Linked DNA regions of Homo sapiens. The protein of the gene in region 6 purifies or fractionates together with the protein of the main gene of each other region. This does not show direct contact. Each region holds a gene or a part of one and is shown on either strand. Other genes may lie near its edges. The genes, in order: KSR1, NHSL1, CDCA2, MTCL3, ERGIC2, PPP2R5B and ARHGEF2.

Evidence for each region.
Region 1: the proteins of PPP2R5B (region 6) and KSR1 purify together in Homo sapiens (co-immunoprecipitation; one study listed by IntAct). This does not show direct contact.
Region 2: the proteins of PPP2R5B (region 6) and NHSL1 purify together in Homo sapiens (affinity purification with mass spectrometry; one large-scale study listed by BioGRID and IntAct). This does not show direct contact.
Region 3: the proteins of PPP2R5B (region 6) and CDCA2 purify together in Homo sapiens (affinity purification with mass spectrometry; one large-scale study listed by BioGRID and IntAct). This does not show direct contact.
Region 4: the proteins of PPP2R5B (region 6) and MTCL3 purify together in Homo sapiens (affinity purification with mass spectrometry; one large-scale study listed by BioGRID and IntAct). This does not show direct contact.
Region 5: the proteins of PPP2R5B (region 6) and ERGIC2 purify together in Homo sapiens (affinity purification with mass spectrometry; one large-scale study listed by BioGRID and IntAct). This does not show direct contact.
Region 7: the proteins of PPP2R5B (region 6) and ARHGEF2 purify together in Homo sapiens (co-immunoprecipitation; 2 studies listed by BioGRID and IntAct, with this or other methods). This does not show direct contact.

The regions. Positions count from the first base shown.
Region 1 is NC_000017.11:27,462,531-27,466,662, reverse strand, and holds part of KSR1 (kinase suppressor of Ras 1), read right to left. Parts: intron 1-4,132.
Region 2 is NC_000006.12:138,426,107-138,430,238, forward strand, and holds part of NHSL1 (NHS-like protein 1), read right to left. Parts: intron 3,738-4,132; coding exon 3,605-3,737; intron 1-3,604.
Region 3 is NC_000008.11:25,504,105-25,508,915, reverse strand, and holds the end of CDCA2 (cell division cycle-associated protein 2), read right to left. Parts: intron 2,407-4,811; coding exon 1,178-2,406; 3' UTR 1,005-1,177; downstream 1-1,004. UniProt on the Homo sapiens protein: Regulator of chromosome structure during mitosis required for condensin-depleted chromosomes to retain their compact architecture through anaphase.
Region 4 is NC_000006.12:127,516,300-127,520,981, forward strand, and holds the start of MTCL3 (microtubule cross-linking factor 3 precursor), read right to left. Parts: upstream 3,037-4,682; 5' UTR 2,280-3,036; intron 404-2,279; 5' UTR 316-403; coding exon 1-315.
Region 5 is NC_000012.12:29,339,529-29,343,320, forward strand, and holds part of ERGIC2 (endoplasmic reticulum-Golgi intermediate compartment protein 2), read right to left. Parts: intron 3,755-3,792; coding exon 3,592-3,754; intron 2,289-3,591; coding exon 2,206-2,288; intron 1,691-2,205; coding exon 1,628-1,690; 3' UTR 1-1,627. UniProt on the Homo sapiens protein: Possible role in transport between endoplasmic reticulum and Golgi.
Region 6 is NC_000011.10:64,923,188-64,927,778, reverse strand, and holds the start of PPP2R5B (serine/threonine-protein phosphatase 2A 56 kDa regulatory subunit beta isoform), read right to left. Parts: upstream 3,091-4,591; 5' UTR 2,751-3,090; exon of another isoform or gene 2,309-2,750; 5' UTR 2,045-2,308; coding exon 1,846-2,044; intron 1,068-1,845; coding exon 871-1,067; intron 1-870. UniProt on the Homo sapiens protein: As the regulatory component of the serine/threonine-protein phosphatase 2A (PP2A) holoenzyme, modulates substrate specificity, subcellular localization, and responsiveness to phosphorylation.
Region 7 is NC_000001.11:155,968,150-155,972,281, reverse strand, and holds part of ARHGEF2 (rho guanine nucleotide exchange factor 2), read left to right. Parts: intron 1-2,981; coding exon 2,982-3,126; intron 3,127-4,132. UniProt on the Homo sapiens protein: Activates Rho-GTPases by promoting the exchange of GDP for GTP.

The DNA.
Region 1 (4,132 bases), on a different chromosome or scaffold from region 6:
TCTGTAGCCCAGCCCTCTCCCCCAAACCCCCTGCAGCCCAAGCTCAAATGCACCCACAGCCATCTGCATTTCTCTTGGATTGTTTTCTGCCCATCAGGGGGATCATGAGGTTCCTGGTAGACACTGAGCAGACCATGCCCTTAACACCAACTAAATGCACCCAGGGCCAGGAGGAGGCAGGAAGTGCAAACTCCAGGCAGGCAGGCAGGCAGGCGGGCACACCTCTCTCGGCAAGTTTCCTCTTCTTGTTAGAAGGATTCAGTGATACATGTATTTAAGTGCTAATGTGATGCCCAGGAGACACCCTATTTCCCTTTGTAAAAAAGGCAATTTCTCATGGCTGGATAAGTCTACAGGGATACCAGCCTCTCTTCAACCACCCAATTTTATTTGGAAACTCAAACAGCACCTCAGTTTCATAAAAACCTAAAACTTAAACACAACACTTGGTTGTAAGTGAGCCAACAGTTTCTTGTCTCTTTCTCTGCTCAAGGCTTAAGGCCATGTCTCCCCAACTACGTTCAGTGGAAGAAAAGATCCCCTGGACAAATAAGTTTGAGAACTGTTGTTGCAGTACTTCTCAGAACCTTTAAAACACAAATCCTCATCCGCAGGGATCTTCAGGAGGGAGATGGCTGATGCAGCACAACTTTCTTCACAGGAGCATCTTGCAGAATACAGTGAGATACAGAAAGGCTGCACTGAGCCTTTTTAAGGGCCCAGGCCTTGGTGGGAGTGGGGTAGGAGCTCTCCAGATAGCTCCTAATGAGTAGGAACATTCAGGTGGCTTTTTTTTTTCCTTATTGGCAAAACTGTGTGTGCACCATGAATGAAGCTGGTCTCCCTTATCCATATCAAAACTAAACCCAAATTAATTGGATAAATTGGGACTCAACCCCTCAAGGAGCCATGCGGAAGAAAGCCCCACCACACTTTAAAGTAGCTTACCACATCATATTTGCGGAAAGCAAAACGCTTATGACCAGTATGCTGCTAATACAAATCTATAGATAATGCTGTATGAAAAATTATTTTTCCCAATCATAGCTGGCATAGTCCACATTTTGCATTACACTTTCCCCCCTTTTTTAAAAATTTTAAACACGGGTCTTTATCTCTTCTTTTTTTAAATTTTAATTTAATTATACAAGACAGAGTCTCAGTATGTCGCCCAGGCTGGTCTGGAACTCCTGAGCTCAAGCGATACGTCCGTCTCTGCCTCCCAAAGTGCTGGGATTATAGGCCTAAGACACTGTGCCCGGCCTTAAACACAAATCTTAATTCATTCTTACAATTATCCGGAGATTAGAAAAATGGAAGGGGAAGAAAAATGGCAAGCAGGTAGGCTGACTTCAGCTTCATTATTTGGAAAGACAGTTTGCTCAGTTAAAACACACTACTGCCCACCAAGGCCAAGACAACAGAAAAATACAGACTTACATAAATAGATTTTATATGTGACAGCAGTTTGAATGGAGACTTTTTCAATGCAAATGACAAACAGCTGTGCCTGGGAATAAATGACAACAAATTTTTTTATCTCAACAGCTGTCCTGAGAGCACGTCTCTACATCTCTACCTGCATTCTGGAATCAGGGAGAAAGCCAAAACGGACAAGACACTAGATCAGCCGTGTCCAACCCTTTGACTACAAGGACTTTTCCGCCTATCTGTGGTGGTGGGTATCATGAAAATTATGCACAAACCTTTTTTTTTTTTTTTAAGCTCATCAGCTATTGTTAGCATTAGTGTATTTTATCTGTGGCCCAGGAGCATTCTTCTTCCAATGTGGCCCTGAGAAGCCAAAAGACTGGACACCTGTGCACTAGATTAAAAGGCTACTCCTTCTGGAAGCAATTGTAAAGAATTTTTACATTATCTTGACATGAAAACCAATGGATAGTGGCACAGAATGCAAAATCTGCAAGGATTTTTCTTGCTGGTTTTTTTTTTTTTTGAGTCAAGTTCTTGCTCTGTGGCCCAGGCTGGAGTACACTGGTGAGATCACAGCTCAGTGCAGGCTCAAGTGCTCCTCCAGCCTCAGCCACTGTAGTAGCTGGGACAACAGGTGTGCACAACCACCCCTGGCTAATATTTTATTTTTTGTAGAGACAGGGTCTCACTATGTTGTTCACATTGGTCTCAAACTCCTTGACTCAAGGGATCCAGGATAGGATTACAGGTGTGAGCCACCACACCTGGCCATGCGCATGAACTTTTAAGACAAACACAAGGCCCCATAAAAGTTAAGGATTTCCCACCTAATTTCCAGGGGATCTTTTGGTGCAAGGATGAGAAGCCCTTAAAAGTAAACAGACAACTCCAAAGATTCAAGACAGTTCATTCGGGCTGAGCCAGCCCACTGAGCAGACTGACCTTCAAAAAAGGTCCACCCGTGACATACCCCAGATGGCGCTCCAAGAATCTCTCCAGTCCTCAGGGCCCCTAAGGCACTGGGACAGAGCTAGGAAAGCAAACCCATTTGCTTCTTCCTGCAGGAAACCCCTTGAGGTCAACACCCCACAATCAGAGGAGGATGGAGTGGCTCACCCTCAGTCAACAGGCCAGACTCAAGGTGGTATAATGTCTTAATCAAGGGTGTGGGCCTCCAGGTCTGACTCCCAACTCAGTGCTCCTTTAATAACCACCCTTTGTTAATTCTGCTTAACAGGGGTTCCTGGCAAGTCAGTTCTCCCTCAGGCCTTCAGTTTCCTCACCTGCAAGATGAGAGGGCTGGACCACATGGAAATTCCAAGACCCTTTGTAGCCCTAGGAACCCACAACTCTACTAAATCATCCCCAAAGCCAGGCACCCCAAATAGCACTGTGATCAGTATTTGTAGTTAGGGATGCAACCAAGAATGCAGTTAAAGTGACTTTCATGAGCCTCAAGTGATCAAGACCTCACCATATGATTATGTACTACCAAAGCTGATCAGTCTCTGGACAGGGAGACCTGAAATCCAGCCCCTCCCTCCGCTATCTTGGAGCAAGGAAAAGGCCTTCTTCTAATTGGTCAGCCCAGGGGGCCCCCCTTTGCTGCAGGTAACCACAAAAACTAGAAGCCACAATGCCTGACACATAGCCCAGAACCTCAGACACAAGCAACCACAAAACTAGAAGCCATAGTTCCTGACACTTATCCCAGAATCTCAGCCAGAGGACCATGTCCAGCCTCTTTTTTTTTTTTTTTTTCTCTGTCATCCAGGCTGGAGTGCAATGATGCAATCTCAGGTCACTGCAACCTCCACCTCAGCCTCCTGAGTAGCTAGAACTACAGGAGCGTGCCACCATGCATGGCTAATTTTCTATTTCTTGTAGAGACGGGGTTTACCATGTTGCCCAGGCTGGTTTCGAACTCCTAGACTCAAGCTATCCACCAGCCTCAGCCTCTCAAGGTGCTGGGATTACAGGCATGAGCCACCGCACCCAGGCCCAGCCTCCTTTTAAACTCTTGGCCGTCAGTGTGATTACAGATGCAGTGGCAAATGGATAAATGTATGAAGGCTGCCATTCCTGCTTAGGAGAGGGGGAGTTATGATGCCATAAAGATATTAAAGACGAGGACAGATATTAAATGTATTCATATACTTTGACCCAGCAAATCTCACTTGTAGGAAGATACTCGTTGCAGCACCATTTATAAAAGCAAGACTTGGAAACAGCCTGAATGGCCCACACAGGGAAACCGGTTAGATGAATTTGTGGTATGACCACACAATGCAGCCACTAATAGTGCTGATGCATATGTATATGTGCTGATACAGACAGAAGACATTTACAAGGCAATGCACATGGTATGTGCCACAAATATACACATGTACATTTATATGCAAATGCAGGAAGAATATACAACAAAATGTGCACTGGAATTAACTCTGAGAGGTGGCATTATGGGTGATTTTCACTGTTGTACATCTAGTACTTTCTTTTTTATAGTGAACATATATCATTATGTATTTTGTAAATATTTTAATTAAAAGTAGAAAGTTAAAGAATACACTGTTTATCAGAGGAACTGTTCAGAAAGAATAAGACAGGTAGCCATTTAAAAAATTATGAGTAAACTGATCTCTAGGCAGCTTCTCCTTTCTCAGAATGAGACAAGCGTAGAGCGGGCTGCATCATGGTG
Region 2 (4,132 bases), on a different chromosome or scaffold from region 6:
TCAGTCTGTGTCTCTTAGCTAAGTGCAGGAGAACTTGCTTTAAGGAAACTCAACACAGTTAATAGAATAAAGACGTGGGTATATCTCTTTTCCTGCTATAAAATTGTAGAATATGCAGCAGGGAAAGGTTGAGAGTATGATATCTGTACACACAGATTAAGAGTTGAAACCAGACTCTTCCCACCTCTCGCTGTGTGACCTGGGACAAATTACCCATGCATGCCATGCCTCCTCACTTATAAGATACCAACCTCACAGGTTTGTGAAGATTAAGTGAAATAAAGAAGCTAGCTACATAACTCCCACTGCTAAAGCTTCCTTGTTCTGTCACCTTGGACAAGTTAACATTTCTGACTGTGTATTTTTCCTATCACCAAAAGGGGAATAACAGTATATAGGTCACAGTTTGTCAGTACTCATGAATGCAGTGATAGCCATAATTGGTCAGGCATAGAGCAGGTGCTTAACAAACCTTTGAATGTCACATAGAAAATGGATTTAGTTTTTACGTGGCTTACACAGCAAGACAGAGGGCAGCATGGGCCCATGCTGGCTGCCCTGGGCTTGGTGTTCCTGGCGTCATCTCCATTCTTCTGGTCAAAAAGATGCCACTAAAGCAGAGGCTGGGAAATGGTAAGGACCCAATACAGGGTCTGAAGGGTGGCCAGAGTGGACAGGGCACCAGACTCTTTGGGACTGCAGAACATGGCCTACCATACAGGTTTCATGGTCCCACTCAGTAGTTAACAAGAGCAGTCTGCCCTGATAAGAGTTAGGACCGGCTGACAAAACTACAGACATCCTAACATCTCGAAACTGTAGAGCTAGAAAAGACGTTAGAAATGGTCTAGTCCAACCACTTTGGGTTTCAGAAAAGGTAACTGAGAAAAGGTAACTTGTTAGTATGACAACTAGGACTTGAGCTTATAGCACATGGCCTCACCACTTACATGGTCTACTCCCCAAAGCAGCTCTGCTCATTTCATTCTTTTAGGTATTGGCTGGTGACTTAATTTGTAATTTAGATTTTAAACGGTGAGAGTATGCTGAGATCCATTAAACAAGTCACAACTAAACTTGAGTAAAACTATGACCTTTAATTGTAGACATAGAATTAAGAAAGAAGATGGGGTGACCAGCCTGAGCAACATGGTGAAACCATGTCTGTACTACAAATACGAAAATTAGCCGGGCATGGTGGCACACGCCTATAATCCCAGCTACTTGGGATGCTGAGGCAGGAGAATCATTCGAATCTGGGAGGCAGAGGTTGCAGTGATCCAAGATCGCGCCACTGCACTCCAGCCTGGGTGACAGAGTGAGTGAGACTCTGTATCAAAAAGAAAAAAAAAAAAAGGAAGAAAGATGGGATTTTATGAAAGCACTGTCATCTCTCAAGAGCAGGTGCCCACTAAAATAATTAAATCTAAATGTACAAATTCTTTGCATATACATACACAACACACACACACGAATATGTATTTTTAATGAAGAGAGCTATAAAAAGTGCTTAAACAGTTAACACTGATTTTAAAACTAATTACTTCAATAAATATAAAAACTTCACACCTCAACTGGTGTTCTACATTTTCCATCTGGCTTTAAATCTGAAGCGAATTAATTTGCATTATAAAATTTGGAAGCTGTGTTTCAACTTAGATATTCTTTATTTTAAATTATGAGCTTAAGCGCTGAAGGACATAAAAATAAAGCCCTAAAAAAGCACAGACAGTAGATGGATTTTTACTATGTCTGCTAATTTATTCTCAACGCTACAACAGAAATTAGCATATGTCCTCACTCTCTCTCTGCAATCCATTCCTAAGGCCTATTTGGCTTTGACTTCTCTCATACGTGCACTGAGTAACACCAACTGACCGATTTCTACATCTGCAGTCGATGTAACGTCCTAGTAAGAGAAACAACACATTTTTCGATGCCTTAAGAAGGTTGCCAAAATATAGAAGAGGCCTTTGGCATATTTTTGGGAAAAAATATGCAGTAATTTGGACCCACAACAGTTGGGTTTCCTCACTGGAACCAAGTATCGAGTACACAGAACAACCAGGCTACGCAAATCTTCTCTGTGGATGGCTATTATAAATAGACAGATATGCCTGTATATTTAGCAACCCAGTGCATTCCATACTAAATGAAATACTCTGAGTCTTGGAAGAATCTTCTAATGGTTAAATACCAGTTGGTTTCATTTAATTCAGGAAATATTTATTGAGTGCTTCTTATGTGTCTAGCGTGGTTAAGAGTTAGAAACATCTATGGGAACTTCTAGAATTGCCACTGAAGTTTCAAAGGATGCATCATTTATCATTTCTCTGTTTTGAGAAATAATTGGACAACCAGCTACCTTTTCACTTCTAATGAGACTGAAGAAACCAGTCCATGTTAAAAGGGGCAGTCTTTAGGATCTATTATACCAACACTAGAGGAGCGACGTAAAGAGCGTAATTCTTGACAAGAACATTAATTCACCGGCTTCGTTCCCCCCACACCAAGTTAGATGTTAATGTGTTGCATGAAGAGTTTCAGGTAGGTACAGCACTATGTTTTTCATCTTATGCAATAGTCTTTTCAGGGAGAGTCCAAGAATTGGGAAAGCAGTGCTGACATAAGATCATTCACACACAGAATCAAATGATTCTACAGGATGCTTTGTTTCAGGAGGTTAAAAAAAAAGAAAGGATCTTCATTCAGGGCAAAATAAGGCCTTGGCAGCATAAGGACATTCATTAGAGTTACCTGGAAATACCGTGGTAGAGAAGTCTAGAAGGAAGCAAAAGGTTTATACAGCATTACGGCTTAACGTAGTTGCACATATACAGTCATCAGCTTTTACGATGACACTGTGTGGGAGTAGTCAGCTGTTTCCAATCAGAAAAGTGATGCAGTAAGTAAAACTTCAGTGCTAAATCATATTTACTCTTAAAGGTGACCACATATAAAAAGTGTAACAGTTCAGGCCATTACTTTGAAAATTTTACCCTTTTTGTTTGTTTTTAAACCCAACGATTTCTGATGCCAGTAGATGGCACTAGTGGTATATTAACAAGCATAAGTCATTCTTTTGCTCCCGCTTAAAGGGCCGTACTCTTTTATAGAAACACTTAAGCAGCCAAAGAAATTGCTCTGTATAACTGTGGTTTTTCTGTAAAATGAAAAAAATTAGAATAAACTAAAACATCTTTAGGAAGAGAGTCCCATGGAGCTAGTCTGTGCATCCTAAGTCCACAGAACATAGCATTCCTCCTCCTGACTGCACTGTCAGTCACTTTAATCCGACTCTTGCTAATATACTCTGTCTTATGACTGCCACACTGCGCTCCTTGCCAGGAAGAGCAGCGCCTACCAGAACGTATCACATTGAGCCACTGTCCCCAATGTCATAAAAATCAGTGAGACAAAGTAAAACAGAAATTGGAGCCAGAGGAAATAAAACTGTAGAAACCCACTAAAAAATCAACAGTAAAGTTAAGGAGTTATGATTGGGTGACAGAAGAAACCTCAAGGAAGAAAAGTAAATTGAGGTGCTGCTTGGAAAGAAGGAATTACACAGTAGATTAAAGTCAGAGGAAGGAGTTTGAAATACCTGTGAATAGCTGCAAAAAGGTCTTCTGTGGTCCTGGGTCGACTGGGGGTCATTACCTCATCATTCCCGTCTTCCTTGAGGAAGTCACAGGCCTCTGAGGATGAACCGGCTGCGTTGGTCTCCGGCACCCCAGCTACAGAAGAGCAGGCAGGCATACAAGACGCACAAGTGACTGGAATTTCAGTCCTCAGCCAAGCTTCTAAATATGCTGCTTCCCTGCCATTCCCGACAATGTGAGAACCACAGGGAGATGCCGTGGGTCTGTAGTTTGATAGTTTACAAAGAAGGGAGGAAATGACACTAGCCTGAGAGCCAGAGCTCATTCTTTGTTAAAGTATGGAACGCCCATGGCATCTCTCTTAAATTTTGTTGCAACGTTTCTTTGCGCGGCTCTTCGGAAGGGAGGTGTTACCCATTGCTATTTAATACCCAGCCTGCTGCAGATCATCTCCATCCCCCTATTTTCTGCCATGCCTTTAGGTCTAGATTTTAAAAATAATAACAAAATGCAAAGTTGGTAACTTAATC
Region 3 (4,811 bases), on a different chromosome or scaffold from region 6:
TGCATTCATAAATTCCAGATATATAGCAATTTAGTTTTTCAAACTGCTATCACCAAAACAGCCATAGGAGATGTTGCAAAAGCTAGAGAAACCAAGTCAAGTGCCAGATATTATTAAAAAAAAAAAAAAAAAAAAAGAACCGCTGGAAAACTCAGTGTTAAAAAATCAGTGACCTACTGCCACACTTCAGGTTAGTAAACTAATTTTATCAGTGAGTTTTTGGTTTTCAAAACTTTTAATGGAAAACCATGAATTAAGTCCCAAACTGCCTGTGACTAATTAGAATAATCTGAGAGCCCAGTCTTTAACTGAGCTATATTTTCACCAAAAATAAAAAATAAAAAATAAAAAATTCCTCCCCCCAACACACAACAAAATATAAAGGAATCTTGTTTAAAGGAATGAATAGTTTCACATCAGAGTTATTTCTAAATTATATATTCATTTATAATGATGAATTTATAAGATTGTGGTTACTGAAATAATTTTCTGAAATTTCTTGTTTAGGATTTAAACTATTAAAATAAAAATCTCATTTGAGACAGATAAAACAAGTCATCAAGTCTTCTCTTAAATTTAACCAAAAGGAAAACAAGTTTTATAATTTCAACTTTTGTTAGTTAAAATTTATAGCCAGGTTTTTTTTTTCTAAAGAAAAATACATATCTTACCCGCTTTAAGTCTTCAAGTTTATATTTCCTTCAATTTTCATAAAGTTCCATTAATTCTATCAATTTATCTTTTGTGGGGAAAAAAAAGAAAAACAAACAAACAAAAAAACAAACCTCTTATCCAGATAAAATCAGCCAATTCTAAAAGATGCTTCTAACAACAGAGTCTAAGACTTCAGTGGTAAATATGTACTTAAAAATATATATGCTAAAAAAAAGTCTAAAAATTGAGAGATGTCTTCTTGTGCCTAAAAATAACCTTTTTAGCAAAGTAGTAATAAAGCATTTACTCTCTGGCGGAAGAAGAATATATTTAATAGAATGTTTTCTATCTGAATGATGAAGAAACTTATTTATTTCTACATAAAAGTAGGTTCAACTCAAATGAGTTTATTTATTAGGAACTTTTGAAACACTGAGGTTGAACAGAGAATGGGAACTAGACAGATCATTTCAGCATAGATGGTTACTTTCCCTCTTGCCACAGACTCTGCAGGAAATGTCAATTACTGCTTTCTTTCTCCATTATGTTCAATCCTTTCCAAGGCAGTCAGAGAGCTCTCTCCCTTCCCATTAAGAGAGGATCTTCTCCGGTAGCCTTTGAACTGGGAAGTGGCTTTAGTATTTGCAAGTGTAGATATACAAAAGCTCTTCCTCCTCTTACCAGGTTCATCGGAAGAACCAGCAGCAGGGCCCTGGCTGTTTTCTGGATCTGAGACGGGAGGTGCCATCTGCGGTTTTTGTCTGGAGGACACAGTTTCTTTTATGGGAGACATACTTTCAAATCCACTGCTGTCAAATGTACATATTGTTCTTCTTTTGGCTTTTTGGGAAGTGGAAGGAAGTGGAAGTGAAATCCATACAAGACCTTCGTTTTCTAAATCCTTCTGTAGCCTCGTGCTACGTCGCACTTTGGTTTCACTATTTCTCCTCTGAAAGGTTTGCTCAATGGCATCAGACAAATCTTTAAACAGTTCAGAATTTTCTAAACTAATTTCTACAGAGCTGCCCACACTGGAGGATGGTGTGTGATTTCCATTTTTTTCCAAATGTAAACTTCGACCATCAGAATAACACATGGAACGTCTTCTATCTTTCCTGTCTCTGCAACTCACAACACTGCTACTTTCCATGGGTTTTCTTCCCAAATCCTCACTCTGGCTTTTAGATTCTTTCGTATTTTCAATTAAGACATCTCCTAAACAATGACAGTCTTTTTGTGAATTAGGCATTAAACGATTGCATTGCAGTTTTCCTTCTGCAGCTCCTAAGAAGTCATCCTTTCTTTCACACTTTATGTTTAAATCTGGTGAAATTTTAAAGAACTGACAAAGGTTTTCTGCATTTTGACCACCAGCAGAAAATTCTTGACCCTGCTGCAGGGTCAGAGCAGGTTTGGGACTATCTGATGCCACACGTTCTTCAGTTACAGAAGCACAAGAAACAGGACTGTCAGTTCCAGCTTTTGGTTCATTTTCACTTTCTGACTTATTTTTTGCTTTTGGAATATTTTTATTTTCATTAATGTTCATTATATTTGTATTTGGATCTTCATCAGAAGTAGCATTGCCAAGCGATGAGGAACTTTTTATATAAGAGCAGAATTCAGAGACATCATATTTATCATAGCCTTGATGCATATGCAAATCTGGGTCATGACGCAAAAGATCCTTTCTTTTCACTGGATTTTTAGGAGTCTTCACTTCTTCCAGTTTGCCATTTGAACTGAAATAACCTATGGGCATGTAAATAGGTTTAAATCTAATTAAAAAGTAACAATGGGAATGAACTTTACATTTATTAAATAATCAGGTGACCTGTTTTGTTTTTGTGTTTTAAGCATTCACAAGACCCACAAATGTTACACTGTGCTTGCCCTTCTGTCATCCTCCTCCTCCTCTTTTAGTTCTCCAACGATCCACAGGTTAAGAAAATAGGTATTCAACGCATGAATTAATAAAGCATATAACCTCAAACCATGAAAATGAGAACAGCATCTGAAACAGCTTCCTCCATTCTAACACCCTTCCCGTGCTACAAGGTCCATGAGTATGAGGCAGTGACATTTCCCATTTCCCTGAAAATGAATGACTGCAAATGGGCAACATTATGCTTCTGAAACTTTCTACCAATGTATCCTCCGAAACAGGGGAGGGAAAATTTGGAATTCTGGGGTATTTGAGGACTTATGAGCTAAAACAGCATGCCTGAAGACACTCAGGTCTCATGCCCTTTGTTAAAAATTACTATAAAGTGCACTGTACTCCGAAACAGAACCAGGTTTGTTTCAATATTATAAAAATCGACCCTTAATTCCTCAGCCTTTGACTAAATATCCTCCAGGAAGACACGTGTGGGTAGGCTTTCATGTATTTCTGGCACATCAGAGGTGGAAAAACCATCATCAGATTGGTAAGTAACACAGCCCACATGAGTTCAGGCTTTATGAGTTCTAAATCTTAGAACTAACTATTAGATGCAATCTTTTTTGATACCTCAGATGATATTTTTAAGTGGCCAGTCAAATGAATAAAGTGTTTTAAATAAAATAAAAACTAAAAAAAGTATAAAACATAAGTTGAGCCAAAAGTCTAAAAAAACAATGTTTCCATTTAAAAATATATCCATGATTAAGGTACTTAAAATCATGTCACTTAAAGCTAGAGATTAAACAGGTCAGTGCCCACTCAGTGCCAACCAATGTTAGTTGGGCTCTTTAGACAGCTTTAAAAATTGATATTTATGGCCGAGCACAGTGGCTCACGCCTGTAATCCCAGCACTTTGGGAGGCCGAGGCAGGTGGATTACCTGAGGTCAGGAGTTTGAGACCAGCCTGGCCAACATGGTGAAACCCCGTCTCTACTAAAAATACAAAATTAGCCAGGCATGGTGGCGCGTGCTTGTAGTCCCAGCTACCTGGGAGGCTGAAGCAGGAGAATTGCTGGTACCCAGGAGGTGGAGGTTGCAGTGAGCCAAGATTGAGCCACTGCACTCCAGGCTGGGCGACAGAGTGAGACTCCATCTCAAAAAACAAACAAACAAACAAAAAGATATGTATTTCGCATAAAATCCAACATACTAGAGAAGGAAGGTAAAGAAGATATAGGGAGAGAGGAAAGGAAAAAGAGAAAGAGATAGAGAAGATAAAGGAAGCAAGGAGCTGAATTGCTTTAAACCCATGTAGCAGGTGATACCACTGGTTACAGACAAAAAATGCTTTAGGTATTTTAAAAAATAAATTCTCTAATACGATACAACATGGAAAATTTTACTACAGTCACTGTTTAATCATCTTTTGAAAAACTGTTAAGAACTAGAGATGTAATGAAAATAAGACTTAGTTTCCACTCTCAAGGAGACTGAAGTTTTAGGGAGCAGGGGAACATAGAAAATAGATCATCATAAAACTAGGTGATGGAAGTATGTTGCAGAGTATTCCTGGAAAAACAGACAATACAGCAAAATCTTGGAAGATAAGCAACATTAGGTCAGATTAAAGGTAGAGTGGTGGATGCCCTGTCACAACACAGCCTGTGAGAAAGCATGGCAGGAGAAGAGTGTGAGCCAGGGCGTATGCGACAGAGGGGTGGCTGTTTATTTAAACTCCTGTGCTATCCTAATGTTAAGCAGGACGCAGAAGCCAGGAGTCAATGGTGGCATGTACCTCATTCATCCTCAAGTCTATTATTAATCTTGTATGGTATACCGCAAATAGGAGGTAGGCTATAAATATCTGATGATTGACAAAGGTAGCCATTTGAAAAATGATTCTATACAAATCAACACACCAAATGGACACACATTATCATTTTCAGGCAAGACAGCGTGGCTCTTGCCTGTAATATCAGTAGTTTGGGAGGCTGAGGCAGGAAGATTGTTTGAGCCCAAGAGTTTGAGACCAGCCTGGGCAACTCAGGGACACCCATCTCTACTAAAAATTAAAAAAAAAAAAAAAAATCATTATTATTTTCAGCAAGATTCAGTCCATTTAAAATTTGGGCATTAGAAACCAGAAACAATTCCAGTCCATTTTTTATCTACCCCATATATCAACTGACTTGATAATAAAATAACTTTCAAGGTAATCAAGCTCAATTTATATGTATTATTTTTAGAAAACAGTAGTGCCAACTCTAACAA
Region 4 (4,682 bases), on a different chromosome or scaffold from region 6:
CGCCTTCTCGGCCCCACCTCCGCCTCCTCGGATGCTGGCGGGCGGCCCCGTGCGGCTCCCGGTCTTGTTACCCTGCTGTTGCTGCTGCTGCAGCTGCTGCTGCCGAACAGAATTGAGTTTAGTGCCGGCCCCCACTGGGGACCGGGTGGCCGCGATTGTCTGTCGCAGCGAACTGTCCCTCGGTCTAGCGGGTGACTGAGCTCGCTGCTGCTTTCTGCTGCTGCCCTCCGGGTGCAGACGAGCCTCAGTGGCTGCAGCGGCGGGAGAAGCTGCTGCTGTGGCAGGGGCAGCGCCCCCGATTGGTGGCTGACTCATGGCTATGAACCTACCAGATGCGATTTGGAAGAGCCCATTACTAGATCATCCTCTTCCCTCTTCACCGCCGCCAACCTTCCTTCCTAAGCTGGGACAGAAACAAAAGGAGAGAAGAAGACAACATGTCTGAATTTTTGCAGAGCAAAGGGTGATATTGCTCCATTTGGATGGCGCTTAATAGAAGCTTTGACTTTAGGAATAGGATGCAGGGCTGTCTTTAGGAATAGGATGGAGGGCTGTCAATTCTCATTTTGCCCAGGGTGGCGCTGTCTCCATCTCACTCCACCTCAGCAAAATGACGGATCTGAAAGCAGCTGAACCTTACATTCTCATGGTAGCAGGCTTTGGAAAGGGTGAGATACAGAGTCAGACAGGAATTGATGGAAAGGGAGATATAAAAGAAAAGAGGATAAAGTGGAAAAGAAGCTTCAGAAAGAAAAGATATCCATATATTAGAGTTGTCAACTCTGCTTTTACAACTTTGGCTTTCCTTACCATCAAATCCATATGTAAAGCCTAGTTTACTGGAGAAAGTTTTCATTTAATTAGTATTCCCAAGTTCAATTAGAGGAAAAGGGTTATGATGTAGGGTTCCTAGAGAATATTTTCTACGGATAAATGACACTTTCCCCAGGCAGCTCCAACCCTTAATGTTGTTTTTGGGAAAATGCACCCAACTTCCTTTATAATAGAACTAAAAGAAAATATAAATAATGAATGCCTTTAAATCAATCTCAGTTTCAAGAAAATAATAGCATTAAGAATTGTCTATATGGGTTAGTTATTAGCAACCCAAAAACGTATTTTTTCCCTTTTGGGAAATAATTTTTAAAATACATTTGGAAAAGTTGTGGTCAGTTCTGCAGTTTCCTAAGTTTCTGGTGATGAATTTTCCTATGCTTACCCAGTTTTGTAGTCTTATGAATCACTTTAGTTTTAAGTGTAATTGCTAGATAGAAAATATTTTCATTCTTAGCCATCTTCTTACATCGCATATCATAGGCAAAAGTTGTACTTTTTAAAGTGCCCATTTCCTCCTATATAGCAATTCTGAGACAGAACCCAGAAGGCTGGTGCATCTTCCCTCATGGTGGTAAGATCAATTTCCAGTATGTGTATTTCCAAGATAAATCCGTCACTAGCTTCTTTAATCTGAAAAATAGCAAGTTACTGCCTCATGGGTTCCTCTCCCTAGGGATCCAGGCAGCTAGTCAATTAGTTGCCTTTTCCTTAAAATTATTTCTGTCTAAAGCACTGAAAGGGGCATGACTAGGCATAAATTTCTCCTTTAAAAATATTTGTTCTATACAGAGAGCAGATTACTTTACTGCCAGTTATTTTACTTGCATTATTCTTGTTAACATCTATTGTTAGCATCACAACTTAGCATGCAGTAATTCCTCATTTTATAAAGAAATATTACCGAAGGGTTCCTAATCCACCTCCCTTTCTGTTTCTGGCATCTCCTTCCAACTCACTTTGAAATATAAAGGTGAACAAAGAAGACATCGGGGGAAAATTGCCCACCAACTTGTTTTCTACATCTTCTCTCCCAGTCGCGATACTACTAGAATGTCTGGCCTAGTTTATCATCATGGGTGGCACTAACATGGGCTATCTAACTAACTTATATTGCCAATGCAAACTTATTTTTGTTTTTAATCAGGCAGAATAATTCCAGAGCTGAGAAGCCAATGTTTAAACTCAGCCCTCAGACAGCATTAACCCAGGCGAAAGCTTGTGTTCCAGTAACTGGGCTCCACAATCAAAGGTATCCGGCTGCTGTCACGTGGTTCCCACAAAGTGACAAGATGCTGCATCTCTTCAAGGCTTTCCCGGTGAAAATTATCACCCAACCAACCCCTGCACGGCTTAGACCAACACTTTTAATCTCAAGTTTTATCCGCCTGCTAACCCACCCCATCATTCATCCCCAACCCTTTAGAAATCCAGAACTTGCTCACTTCTCAGCAGAGGCGAGGTTTCCAAGTAGCTGAACAAATCAACAGCACTTTCCTTCTGATATTCCGGGGATCTCAGGGTTTATTATTGTGCCTTTCTGCGCCGAGGAAAGTTCAACTTCATATTATTGTATGCGACTTTCCGGCTGAGCATGACTTTGGGCTCGCTCGCCGCAGTTCCACACCCACTCGATTTCTCCAAACAATGGCGGTAACGTCAAGATTCAGCTGCCCCCAGAGCGGGTGACTTCCCGGCGGTCCGCGGCTGGGCTGGAGCTGCAGCTCTCAGCAGGCTAACACGCGAGGTACCAAGCTGGGCCAGACGCTCCCCAGGAAGTGCAGAGATGTTCATGAGCTGACCTCACCGAACTGGGCAGGAGAGAAGGCGGGATTGCAAGGGACGATAGGGTAGAAGTAACCAAAGAGAGGTTACTTTCAAGAGGAAAGAGAAGAAGGCGGGGAGGGGGACGGGGGACGGGGGTGGGGAGTGGCGGGATAAAGAGACAAAAAGGCCAGAGCCACGCCCGAGATGGAAGATTGGCAGCAGCGCTCAAACTCCTTGCTCTATTCTCTTATCCCGTACTTGGCAGAGGATCCCAAAACCGCTCGAACACGGATGCACTGGTTTCCTGCAAAGCTTTGTCCTGGGTTCGGTCATTCTCCATCAATTATTTACTTGAGCTTCTTTTCCAAGGAGGCGGACTAGAACAGCCTTCCGGGCGTGACTAACATCTCCTGATGCAGCTGGCTGGCGGCTGCTGGGAGTTCTCTTTGTTCACTCACTTTAATTCTCAGTCGAGCTCTACACGCGGTGCTCCCTCCCCACCCCCAGCCCGGGCGGAGTCATCAGATGTCGTTTCCACGAATAGATAATGGTTGCCATGATGGGACCCACCGTCCCACAGACAAAGGGTTCTTGCGAAGCCACGACTAATTTAGTGCAAACCGAAATAAATATCGGCCCACAGAGATCCTTTACAGAACGGTTTGCCTTCAGTACGTTTTCCTGTTTTCTACTGAGTGCCGGTTTCTACCGTGAAAATGAGTAATTGCTGGGATCCATAATCTTTATAGTAGTGCATGCGAACAATAACAGAAACCAGGAAGAATACATTATATCAGCCTAAAAGGGAATTCATTTAAAAAGAGGAGTTCAGAATATACATGTCTTTACAATTTACACTAACCCATACTGTTTCACAGTAATAATATTTTTAAAAATTAAGTGGAATTTTCTCTTTTTCTTTTCAGTTTCTTCTTTCAGTGGTGGGCGGGGGGCATGGGAGCCTCCCTTCTACCTCTAAGAATTCCTTTGTGAGCTTGAGTATGAGAATAAAAGTAAGTACTGCTTTTGAAAGGGCATTTTAAAATTTAATTTGTCTTACATTTATATGGTGATTTTGTAAGTAAAAGGAAGAAGATATCTTGAAATAATAATAGCTTTTTGTGCCAACATGAATTTTGGCTCAAGAGATTCAATTTTCCAAGTGTTGATCTTGCATTAAAAGTGAAATAAAAACAATTTAGGAGTAGTTTGCATAAAAGCAATTATTACAGCAAAATAAAAACATGCTCAAGCTCTGGTTATTCTTATCTTTAGAGACACATAAAACAAATATGATATCACGATAAAATCATTCATGTTCCAAAATAGGTATTAAAAGCCAATTTTGAGCCTGGCACTGTCCAAGGTACTGGGATGCAAAGCTGAATCAAGAAATTGTCCCTGTGCTGGGGACACTCAAGCATACTGGTGAAAACTGAGATAATTTCCTTATTTTCTTTCAAATACCTTTGGGAACAGGAAAAGTGACATCTGTGACATTTATAATAAAAAGCCCACACCTCGACTAGCATACCAAAAATAAAGGAAAAAAAAAAAAGCAAGTGAAAATGTAATCACAAGTTGGTTTGAATTTATATTAGGCAATTTCTTATTATGTACCCAAACTTGAGCTGTAATATCCTCAAGAAATATCAAGATGCACATGTCTCATCCAATCAAAATGGATAAAGTAGATACAAATATTTTTCAGCTCAATCTTTACCAATAAAATATTGATACTGTAAACACAGTCTAAAGACACAGAATATGCATAGTCCTGCTTCTCTAAGAATTTTTACTCTGCTCAGGCATCTATGTTTTGATTTTTTTTCCGAAAGCGGTATCATTTATTTCGTGCAAATAGTAACTTTAAAAAGTAAAATAAATATTAAGAATGGATTATTATGTATCCTTAAATCAAACAATGTGTCTAAATGTTTCATTTTATAATTTAGTATTATGCAATTTCAAGGTTGAAAACTGTAATAATACAGAATAAGTATAAGCAACATTTAACATGCTTGTTTACCCATAAGTATGCCATAAGAAAAATAACTTCTGAATTGGATATTTTCCTGATT
Region 5 (3,792 bases), on a different chromosome or scaffold from region 6:
GAGAAGGCTCATTCACGATTCAGAATTTTCTGTTTAAAAATCTTTCAAAGTATGTTATATCACTTATTTTCATCAGTTAACGTCATGGCTCTTAATGATATATTTTTTAAAGTGATGCTTCTGTTATTTTCTGCAAAACGTCATTCTGCATAAACTTTACTGCAAAACAGACCCATCACTATTTCTCCTTCTCTCCATTATATTGTTTATCCTGTTTTCATAAATTTATCTTTAAAAAAATCCATTTGAAAAACTGTTACTTGTGATATCCTGTTTTCTAAAACCACTATTTTAAATCTAGTTTTTCAGTCTTGTTATTTACCTGGAATTTTGTTTCCCCATTTCCTTAAATGATTTAAACTTTGAGGATTGGCTGCTGATTCTTCTACTGCCATTCAGTACTACAAAAGGAAAACTGATATTGGTACACATATTCCAAATACAGCTTTTAATAGTACCTGTGTGATAGCTCCCTCTCACTGTTTTTAATCTTTTATAATGTGAAGATTTAGAACCAATCCTTAAATAGTAAGAAAGTTAGAACACAATCTAATACAGAATCAATCATATTCAGGACACCCTGAATGCAAATACTTCATAATACAGTTTTATAGTTTAATGGACAATGTTTAACATGGCACCTCTCAAATCTGATATATCTTGTGGTGCTTACAATTTGCCTTACACTTTCATTTAAAGTTACCCTGTTCTCCACTCACCACATGTATAAAATATCCTATTTTTTCTCTTAATGTTTTACAAACCGGTAATTTTCACTATCAGTAGCGGATCTTTTTATAACTCACCCTATGTTGCCCAAAATACACCAATAATATAATGATTAGATTAAAAAACTTGGCATCTTTTTTAAAAAAATGTGCTTTCTTTTCCGTGTATAAGATTCTACTATACCATTTGTGAATGACACCCTAGTTACATAACACCTACATATCTGCCCCTGTGAGAATTTACCTTAGTCTTCTAAGACTCTATCTTCAACAGTTAGATAAGTCAATAACCAGAGTTCAAAGAAAAGTAGTTACTTTTTAAGACCAAATTATTGGATAACTGGTCTTGTCAATATGGCTTAACATTAATATGGCTATAACATAGGGACTAGCCCGTTTTTTTTTTTTATTAACAATGTGACCTGATCACAATTCTTTAAAGTCTAGACTAGTTTTCCGTATGTTTTCCACATTTTATTCTGACATCATATCTTTTAAAAACAAAAGGATGCGAACATTTGCACTTCTCAATGTTTTTTTTTTTCCCATAGATGTAGTTTCACTTATTTCCTTCAGGCTTTTTATCAGCAAGAAGCAATGTCTGATTTTGATACCACCCATTTGCTATGAAAATATAAGAAGGCGTCATCTTCAAAGCAACACTCCAGTTGGGCTTCTTCATCGTTTAGCTGCATGATTTCTTCTACGACATTTGTAACAGACACAACGTATATAGAATTTCAGTTTGGGTTTTTTTATCCTTTTTTTTCTTTTTTAAAATAAGTATGTTTTCTGCTTATTTGTGTTTTCTTTTCTTTGAATATATTGCACAATATTTTATTATTAAAAAAAGGTTTTATGTCTCAGGCAAAAAGTTTTTCTCCTTCAATCGGGAGGTGTTAATGTGTATTATTTTCTAAAAGAGGTAAGTGGTTGTCTGTGTGGCCATCCTCAAAAGGAACCTAAGGAGAAAAGGAGGGAAAAAAAGACCAAAGAATTAGTTTTATTCCTTATACTCTTTCCTCTAAACACAAGGTTTTATTTTGGGCAATCCTTTCTAGTAACCAAAAGCTACTATTTCTCTCTCTCTCTCCCCCTATTTCTCTATCTCTCTATCTCTATCTTTTTTGAGGCAGGGTCTGCTCTGTCACCCAGGCTGGAGTGCAGTGGTACGTACGATCATAGCTCACTACAACCTCAACTTCCTGGGCTCAAGTGATCCTCCCACTGTGCCCTCCCAAGTAGCTGGGACTACAGGCTTGCACCACCTTGCCTAGCTAATTTTTTCTATCTTTTGTAGAAATGGGGCTCTCACTATGTTGCCTTGACTGGTCTCAAACTCCTGGGCTCAAGCGATCCTCCCGCCTTAGCCTCCCAAAGTCTTGGGATTACAGGTGTGAGCCACCATGACTGGCTCATAGACTTAACAATGATTCTAAGATTTAGAGATCAGCACCATGTATACTACACCACTTACAGAATTGACAGGTTTATAGGATCCAAGTCTGAAACGACAGCAAATTATTTCAACTATAAATTTTCCAATTCCATGTAACATGCCTGTAATAAACAATAAGTTTATGCTTTTAATTATTTCCTAAACTGTTATTTAAGAATAAATAACTATAATGGAATAGATTACGGAAGAAAACAAAGCAGTTTGCATTATTCACTTCCATGGTTAAAAATAATCAAGAAAGATTTTAAAACAAATGGATTTCTTTTCAAAGTCACAAGGCCACATAATTCACGATCTCAGCACAATCTTTTTTTTTTTGAGACGTCTCACTCTGTTGCCCAGGCTGGAGTGCAGTGGTGCAATCTTGGCTCACTGCAACCTCCACCTCCCAGCTCAAGCAATTCTTGTGCTTCAGCCTCCCAATTAGCTGGGATTACAGGCATGTACCACCATGCCCGGCTAATTTTTTATATTTTCAGTAGAGACGGGGTTTAGCCATGTTGGCCAGGCTGATCTGGAACTTCTGGCCTCAAGTTGATCCGCCAGCCTTGGCCTCCCAAAGTGTTGGGATTATAGGCATGAGCCACTGCACCGGGCCTAAACACAATCTTTTCAAGGTTTTCCCACACCAATACAATTTTGGAAAATAAATGATGTCAACAACACAAATTTAAATAGATTGAAATGAAGCACTAACAAAGAATTTCGAAAGAAAAGCTATTCATTCATTTAAAAATATGATTCTAAGTATAATAAACTACCCAGCTCCATCTAATACTGAATAAGGACTGAAGATGAAAATAGAATTGTTTCCTTTTTCTCTATTGTACTTAACTCCCAATTTTCATCATTACAATTCGACAAATAATCTTAGCGAATTCCAGGATCTCAGGACAAAAATCATAAACATGTTACTGATTACAAATCTAGTTTCATGTATTGCATAATTCAAAGTACTATAACATATGATTTTACATACTGTACAGTTAAAAATGTCTTAAATGCCTTCTAGGCATTTTCATATTTAATCCTATAGCACACTTGCAAATTAGGTATTATTATTGCTATTTTTACTGATTAGAAAACCTCAGAAAAGGTAGGTGATCTATTCCAAGCTACCACCAAGTAAATGACAGAACTTACATTCAATTCTACTTCAATCTGATGTTAACACCCAGGATCTTTCCAACTCACCATTATATAATCTACCTTACATCATTGAATACAATGAAATTAGTTATGTTTACTGGTTAGTCAATATAATTTTGGAGTTTTGTAATTAAAGCAAAAGCTATTTAAACACCGAAACATGAAAATCTGTATACTTCTTGCCCCTTTGAGAAGAAGCAACTTAAGTATAAGCAACACTTTCAGAAATTAGACAAAAAGGAAATGGTTGTTAACCTGTTGTTGAAAAGATTCCTCCAACAATACCACAGAGTCTTACAAAAAACTGCCAGAATGGCATGTGCTCCTCAGTAACTGTCACCATAAGAGAACTGAGATCATATTTCATAAATATCCCAGAGACTCCATGGCTGCCTGCAGCATGGTTAATGATACGTTCCTAAAAGGGAGGCAAAAGGAAGGGGAGAAATAGGAGGA
Region 6 (4,591 bases):
TTAAGGAAAAGCCCTTGAAGACAGAAGCCAGGGAGTCTCTCATTCAAAGCTTTTTTTTTTTTTTTCTTTCCCAAGACAGGGTCTCGCTCTGTTGCCCAAGCTGGAGCGCAGTGGTACAATCTCGACTCACTGCAACCTCAACCTCCCAGGCAGGCTCAAGCGATCCTCCCACCTCAGCCTTCTGAGTAGCTGGACTACAGTAGCACACCACTATGCCCGGCAAATTTTTAAATTTTTGTAGTGATGCGGTCTCACTGTCAGGCTGGTCTTGAACCCCTTGCCTCAAGTGATCCTCTCGCCTTGGCCCAAAGTGCTGGGATTACAGATGAGAGCTGCTGCTCCCGGCCCTCATTCAAAGTTCTAATGGGTTGATTTCAGCATCTGCCCCAGCAAGCAGTTCATTCCTTGGGCAATCATCACCTGAACGCCTAGTTCGTGCAAGCCCTGGGCCAGGGGCTGGGAACCCAGGGGTGAATGGGACACATCCCTGCCTTCTAGGCAGGTGCAATCCAGTGGGGAGAACAAGGCTAGAAGCTGTGAGGTCTACGGGCAGGAAAAGGGAGATTTCCAGCTTGGTTATTGACAGCGGCTTCTTGGCAGAGGCGGCACCTGAGCCAGGCCATGGATGGTATGGGGTGTGGGGCAGGGCACTCCAGGTCTCAGGCAAGCATAAGCAAAGGTGTGGACGTGGGGCAGGCCCGGAGGCATTCAGTGGGTGTTGGGCAGCAGCAGGTCGGGGGGAAGGAAGACGTGGACTGAGGCCAAGCCGATGAGTACAGGGTTATTCTCCACGCAGGGGTCCTGCGGACAGGAAACGGGGCTCACACGCCCTCTCGGCCGGCCCTCGGAGCCTGGGTGGCAGGTGCTCACCATGCGGATGATGTCTGGGTAGACGGGCTCGATGAGGACACCCCGGGTGCTCCCCACACACTCCACCAGCTCGTTGAGGGCTGCCCGCTTCACCTCCTTCCCCTTGAGGTCGGCCACACAGTCCAAGAAGTCAAACATCACCCCACACTGGGCCAGCTTCCGGCTCAGCAGCTCGTGCAGCTCGGAAGCCGGCACATCTGGGGAGGAGAGGGCATCCTGGGCCTGGGCCCCAGCTCCCCCAGCTGCCCCAGCTGTGGGTGGGGCAGACCCTCCTAATCTCCACGGCTGCCTCTGCTGCCCCCAGGCCCCATGCTCTTGTGCCATCTCCTGCTCCTTGCAGACAGCAAACAACTACTGTCCCTTCCTCCATTCCTGGGGGTTGAGGGTTGCTTTTCTTCCTCCTAATCCAGGCTCAGAGAGTATGATGGCCTGAGTTTTAAAGCAAGATCACAAATCCTGGATGCAGCAGCTTTCCACAGGTGCCCCAAACAGCTGCTGCCTCCCTCTCAGGTGGCACCCTGTTCTAAGGGCCAGAAATGGGGAGGGGTTCAGGGCCAAGGATCTCTACGGTGTCCTCAGGCTTGGCCAGTCTGGCCCTATGGCCCAAGGCTGGGGAAGGGACCTATGTGGTGATCCCAGGGAACCCTGCCAAGCGCCTGCTCCAGGGATCTGGCAGCTGGCTGGGCTGATAGTGGCCCCCTGGAACCCAGGCTATGGGCCCCACCCTTGGCCTTGGTCTGCCCCTAGGGTGGCACCACCTTCGGATGTCCCACCTCTAAGGATGACAGGCCAGTCAGGCCATGTGTCAGCAGAGAGGGCTGGAGGGCTGGGGTCAGTTCTGATGGCGGAGAACCTAGCCTGGAGGGGTATCCAAACTCTCTCTCTTGGCAGCTGCCCGCTGCCTCCCACCCCTCCCCATGGCCCTGCTGGTCCCCTCGGGGGTTCGGTTCCCCCAGTGGCCAGCAGCCAGCTCACCTTTGAGCAGGGGCAGCGGTGTGAGCTCTTGCTGGTTGCTCTGATAGCGGAACTGAGAGGAGCTGTGGGAGCGGCGGGGCCGGGCTCTGCGGAGGGAACGGCGGGAGAAGCCGTCCACCTTGTCGGGTGGGGGCACAGGCGACAGCCCGGGGGAGGAGGGGCTAGTGGGGGTGCTTGCAGGGGGCAGCTTCGTCTCCATGGCGGTCAGGCGGCAGGGCAAGCTTTCAGAGCCCCGGGGGTTCTCTCTGGGCCTGGGAGGTGCTGGGTGAGACTGGACAGACTAACTTGGTCCCATCCTGTCCGGCCTTTGGGGGGGGGGCACAACCACAGTCCTGGGCCCCCCCCCAGGGCCTCCTGCAACTGCCCAGTCCTGGGGGGCAGACAGGGTAGAAAGGAGGATGGCTCAGGCCTCAGATCCTTCCTGGGGGTCCCGAAGAGTCCAGTTAGGGTTCCCACCCTGGCTCTTTTGAAAACGAAGTCAGGCAGAAAGATCAGCAAGAAAGAGACAGAGAAAGCCCATCAGTTCCTCAGGAGAGCCGGGAGGCTGCGTGGAGTGCCCAGGTCTTTTCCCTCCTATCCTTGCCCAGACCCTAAAATAGGGGTGCAGCCCCCTCCCATCCTGGACATGTCCCTCCCTTCTCTCAGACAGAAAGCCTCCAAAACAACCCCTCCCAGAATAGGGCCTATCCCCCAAGCCAGCCCCGACTCAGAATGGAGCCCCGATCGTCATCCCTGCCCCTTTCAGAATGGAACGCATCGCTGCTCCACTAATCCCGGCCACTTGGGACAACCCCAAGACTGGAGGTGCTGTCCCGATGCCACCCCGCTCCTAGAACCTGGCACCCTCCCCCACCTCAGCTCCTCCTTCCTGGCCCCCCAAACCTCATGGGGTGGGGGACACTCACTTCTCGAAAACCTAGACTTCGGTCGCCAACCCCCGGGGGCTGCCCGTAGGGAGGGCGACGGCCGTTCAGGGCCCCTTCGCAGCGGTTCCGCTCGGGGCGCTGGGGCTGGGCGGCGGCGCTCCTGGGTTCTCTCCCGGGCTCCGGGGGGGCGGCTAGAGCATGCCCCCAACTCAGCCCCGGGCCGGGACTGGGCGCTCGGCGGGCTCTGCACCGGCCGTCGCAGCGCGCGGATCTCCGCTGAAGTCCTGGGACTCCGACCCAACGCGGTGCAGCGCAACGGGAGCCCCGGCTCGGCTCCGTGCGCACCGGCACCCGCCGCCCAGCTGCTCAGGATGACATCAAGTCACCTCCCCCCACCCGGCCCGCACCTCCCCGCGGGCTGAAAGGGGGGGCTGCGTCAGGAAGGCCCGGGGCCGCTGGGAGATGTAGTCCCCGCGCCGTTTAAAGTGAGCTGCCAGACCAAAGGGGACACCCCTGAGGGCAGACTCGGGGGTGAAGGCCGAAGCTTTTGAAGCCAGAGAGCAGAGTGGGATGGGCTCTAGCCGGGGGCGGGAAGCCTGGATTCTAGAAGGGAGGCTGCATAGGGAAAGAGGAGGGCTTAGGAGTTTGCACCAGGAAAGTAGGGTGATGCCAGGACACTGACAGGAAGGAGTCGCAGCAAGCTACGCTAGGCCCACAGATTTGGCCTGGGCCTTCTATGCCCTAGGCCATCCCCCCAGGAACCTCACCCTTACCCCAGAACCACCAGACACTTCAGAAACCCCTTGGAAACCAGCACTGGACTAGTTAAAAGTCTGCGATGAGTCAGTGCTTGCTGGGAGGGGTGTGGTGCACCCAAGCCTGCTGGGAGATGCAGTCCATCCTCAGGCCTGCAGTCCCCCTCCCGTCCCTTGCTGTCTATGGTGACATCATGGTCTCCAGTTTAAAGGGCCAGTCTTGGAGTGGCAAAGCCCGAGAGGAGGAGGTTTTCTCCTTGAGCTGCCACCTCATCCCAGGCAGCCTGGCCTTCCCGGATGGACCTTTCAGCCCCCCTGGACCCTAAGATGTGCTGGGTGGGTCAGTGTCTCTTGCTCAAAATCCTGCTGCTGGCATGCAAGGCACAGGTGGGAGTCCAGGAGTTTGGCATGCTAACCAAAAGTTCCCAGCCTGCAGTCCTGGGCCCCCGTCCTAGGATCCTGGACCCCAACACTCTTTATAGCCCTGAACTCCATCCCGCTACACTGCTGTGAAATCTCCACCCTGAAATGTTGCCTGGATGAGCAGCTGGTCCATGGTGAGCAGTAGGAAAGGGTGATGAGACCAGATAATGAGGTCGGGGAGGGGACTAGGGGCCTTTTCAGAGTCTGCCCCATCTTGCTTTGGGTCTTGGTGACCACTCAGTGCTCCAGCGGAACCACCCAGCCATCCTCCCGGTTGCAGAGGAAGCCTGGGTGCGCAAGAGGTGTCCGCCTACCAAAGCAACAGAAGGCAGAGGCCTGCACCGAGGGCCGCAGTTCACCAGGCTGGGGTCCAGGACTCCGGCACTGGAGACCCAGCAAGTGCTCTGCTTGCTCAGGAACCTCCGGCAGGCCTTGCCCATCCGGCCCTTGGTGTCCCTGTCTGTCCAATGGGAATCCATGATCTCCCTCCTTGCCCACCTCCCAGGCTCTTCTGCATCCCTGAACAAGCTGAGGGAGGGCAGGCCCACAGAGCCTCTGCAGCCAGGCAAGGACCCCAAGGCCTAGAGAGGAGAAGCGCCTTGCCCAGTGTCACACAGCGTGTCATCAAAAGTTGGGGCCAGGGGCCAGGCTTCCACCTCCCAGCTGGCTACAGCCCATCTCCACAAGCCCCCTGGGTACCAG
Region 7 (4,132 bases), on a different chromosome or scaffold from region 6:
CTAGAGCAGGGGTCACTTCGAGAGAGGGTGAGTGTTGGGAGGTGGAGGAGGCAGGGCCCAGAGTACCAGGGCTGTCTGTGGAGCATTGATGCCAGAGAGAGGAAGGGCCACTAGAGACCCTGTTCTCTGGCTGCCCCAGTCTTCTCCCTCCCTTTGCCACTCCATCTGAGCTGGTCAGACAGATGAGTGTTTGTGGATGCCACAGGGGGAGGGTGGAGGGCAAAGGACAGAGGTCAGGTGTGGAAGAGAGTACTCGTAGCAGCACTGGGGCAGAGCTGCAGCACTGCCCATTCTGGAGTGACCCTGGTCCAGCCATGTTGTTTTTTTTAATACTATTTTCAGCTTGCTTGCTTTTACTTATGTGTGTATATATATATATGTATATATTTTTTTTTTTTATAGAGATGGGTCTCGCTGTGTTGCTCAGGTTGTTCTCAAACTCCTGGCCTCAAGCGATCCTCCCACCTCAGCCCCGCAAAGTGCTGGGATTACAGGTGTGAGCCACCTCACCGGCCTCTTGCTTTTAATTCAAATGTAATACATGCTCAAACTTTTGGTTTGAGTTATATAGAAGGCTGGGAGGGCAGGAGAGGAGGAGAAAAGGGAGAGTATATGGCAGTGGGAAGAGATTTTTGGACTTGGTGTTTGAGGTCCTGTGAGGTTATTATTCAAAGGTGAATTTGAACTTCTTTTTTTTTTTTTGAGACATAGTCTCACTCTGTGGCCCAGGCTGGAGTGCAGTGGCCCAATCTCAACCCACCACAACCTCCAACCTCCCCGGTTCAAGCAATTCTCCTGCCTCAGCCTCCCAAGTAGCTGGGATTACAGGTGCCTGCCACTACGCCCAGCTAATTTTTTGTATTTTTAGTAGAGATGGGGTTTCACCATGTTGGTCAGGCTGGTCTCGAACTCCTGACCTCAGGTAATCCACCCGCCTCGACCTCCCAAAGTGCTGGGATTGCAGGTGTGAGCCACTGCACCCAGCCTGAATTTGAACTTCTAAAGAGGTATAATTTGGTGCAAGATAGGTGGAGGTTAGACCAAAGGGAGCATTTTCTAGTGGTCCGGGTAGGTAGGTGCCAGAATAGAAAAAAGGAGGCCAGAACATTTTAGAGGTTTGAGTTAGAGGCTAGAGGCAGCTCAGCTTCCTGAATAAGCCTAGGTAGAGGAGCAGTTGGCCTGCGTGAGGAGGAGGGGAGGAGAGGCTGTGGGCGGGAGAGGAGAACAGTGGCGGAGAAGCAAGGCTGAGAAAGGGAAGGCAGAGCGGGAGGAGCCTAGGAGGGAGACCCTGAGAAGAGAAGGGAGGACATAGAGAGAGCAGGAGACAGGAGGAGGATGCGAAAAATGGATGATTGGGGATGGGGAGGATGCATGAGGGGAGAAGGGATTGACCCCAAGACCTCTGGGCTCTGGACATCATCAGGCAAACCTGGAGCTTGGGAAGAGAGGCAGGAAAGAGAAGGATCTTGGGCCCAGGCACTGCAGCCCCATGCCCTCTGTCCCTGCACTGTTGACTCAGCCCCTCCACACTTCCCCTTTCTTTCTACCATTTTCTGCCCCAAGCACCAGGCCCGTGCATCTCTTCCCCTCCTCCACCTCTCAGCTGCTGGCGTGGCCTCGTGGCCTCGGCTGAGTCAGTACTGGTCTCCTAGAGTCCGGGCTGAGTGCTTCCCGCTGAACTGTAATCCTCTGTCCCCAGTCCAGGTCCTCTGACTTGGGGCTTCTACCCTCAGCCATCTGGATCCTGATTTTTGATTTCTGAGAGCCTGGGAAACCTTGGAGGGAGTGGTCTTCTCAGCTTCTAGTCCTGCTCCAAGAGCGGAGGGAAAATCCAGAGATCAGAGTCACAACTAAGGAAGGTCCTAGAATAGTGGGAAGAGTGATATCCCCCTCTTCTCACCTTCTCAGGCTTTTTGGGAATCACAGGGGCTTGAAGAGGGACAGATTGGAGGTCAGGGAGAATGACTTGACTTGCAGAGGCAGGGGCACTGGGGGAAATGGGAGACAGCAGAGATGGAAAATGCGGCTCAGAGGCTCCGAGGAAGGTGTGCGCCATCTGCGGAGATCAACACTGAAGGATGGAGGGTAGATGTCAGAAAGGACTTCCTAGGATGGGAGAGACCAGTTGGGTAAGGAGCAATAGAGGAAACTCTCCTAGGTTTTAACTCTGGAAAGTAGTATGAGAGGGATAAAAGTTAGACTGCAGGAGAGATTTTCCGCTGGAAGCAACCAAGATGGCTGGCTGAGCTTCCTTACTTAAAGATCCCAGAGTGGAAGAGTGACCCAAAGGCAGCTAGCTGCCTTTGCCTCAAGGTTAGTAGGGGACATGCTGCCTCCCAGACAGGCCCTGTGTGCCGTGGCTGAGGGTTGGTGAAAAGAGTTAGAGGTCTGGGATCCTGACCCCTGGGTTGGGGGTGGCAGGGGAGGCATTCTGCCCCCTTCAGCCAATCTAATAAGGGGATCTCCTGCCCCCCCCACTGTGACTGCCACAGAGACAGCAGATCCAACACTGGTTGTCATGGTTATAAGAGGAGCTAACTCCCATAGATTGGAAAGCGCTGGTGAGCTGGCACCCTCCGCTTCGCCTGCTCTCCCCTCCTCTCTGCGCATCTTCCCCCTAGCACAGAGAAGAGAGTACAGCAGCTCGGGGGTGAGCAGAGCTAGGGCTGGGAAGGTGGAGTGAGGACGCAGAGACCTAGAGCCAGGGAGATGAGTGGCAACAGGAGGCAGCCCAGCCGTAGGGGCCAGGTAGGTCAGGGACCCAGAACCCATCCGGGCTGGCTGCCCCAGAGCCTGGCCTGGTCACTCCCGGACAGCTGCCTCTGACACCCAGTTGCAGGCTCTGCTTTAGGAACTGGTGTCTTTCCAGCATCCTCAGGCTGGCATTTTTTCCTTGCCTCTGCCCCCAGCCTGTCTCTCTGGACTCCAGGCACCCTGGCATTTTCCAGCCTCACTTCCTCTCCCTCTCATCCCTTCCACAGACCCGGGAAAAGGAGAAGATGAAGGAAGCCAAGGATGCCCGCTATACCAATGGGCACCTCTTCACCACCATTTCAGTTTCAGGCATGACCATGTGCTATGCCTGTAACAAGAGCATCACAGCCAAGGAAGCCCTCATCTGCCCAAGTAAGTTGTTTGGACCCTGAGAGTCACCCAGACTCGGTGCCCACTGACCCTGATCTTTTCATCTGTTTTTTCTGCCTGGATCCATGAGGGTCACTCTTCTCTCTGATCCCCAGCTGGGCCCAAATGCCAGGGCCAGTTGCTTGATCCCTTGCTCCCTGTCCTCACTCTGAGGGGTGGTGGCTGTTGGAATATGGCATAAGCCGGACTATCTGGGAATGTGGGGGAGGGGAGGCTGTGCTGGCTCCTCTTGCAGCTGTCATCCACCAGGCACCCCCCTTGCTCCCCGAACAGCTGCTAAGGGTTAGGGGAACTGATTGGAGAAGGAGCAGGAATGTTGTATGTGTGGAGGGGGTGGGGTGGGGGGTGACAGAGGAACTGGGTGGAAAGCTGCCAGCCTTGCAGCTGGCTCTGCCTGTCTTCCTGCGCAGAGCTGGGCATTCAGGACTTCACAGTCCCCTTGCCCCTTTCTTTCTATTGACTATGGGTGGAGCCTGAAATCTCTGCTGTTTCAAGCAGAAGATGTGATTAGGACCCTTCATCTCAAATTTCTAGTGAGAAAGAGGGAATGTAGCAGGGATGTGTGTGTTGAGGGGCAGGGGTTAGAATTCCTGCCCTTCATCCACATCTGAGTGTAGTCCTGTCTTTAGGGAGTATAAGCCAGGAATTCTTTCCTTCCCCAGTACACAGAGGGCTCCTGCTGCCCCCTCTCCCTCAATTCCTCCTGAAGTTATGGCAGAGATGCCTCTGATTAGAGCAGGATTGAAGGTATTGTGACCTGCTACTGAATAGCGGACAAAAGCTCTAGCCTGTAAATCCCTATGAAACTTGGGGAAGGAACCCCCAGAAAGGACCAGTGATGGGCAACCCGCTCGGGTCCCCTTCTACGCTGTGGGAGCTTTGTCATTTTGCTCTTCACAATAAAGCTTGCTACCGCTCAAAAAAAAAAAAAAAAAGAAAGAAAAGAAAACCAGTGAAGCCTCCCTACTTTCCTCACTGTTCAATTTAG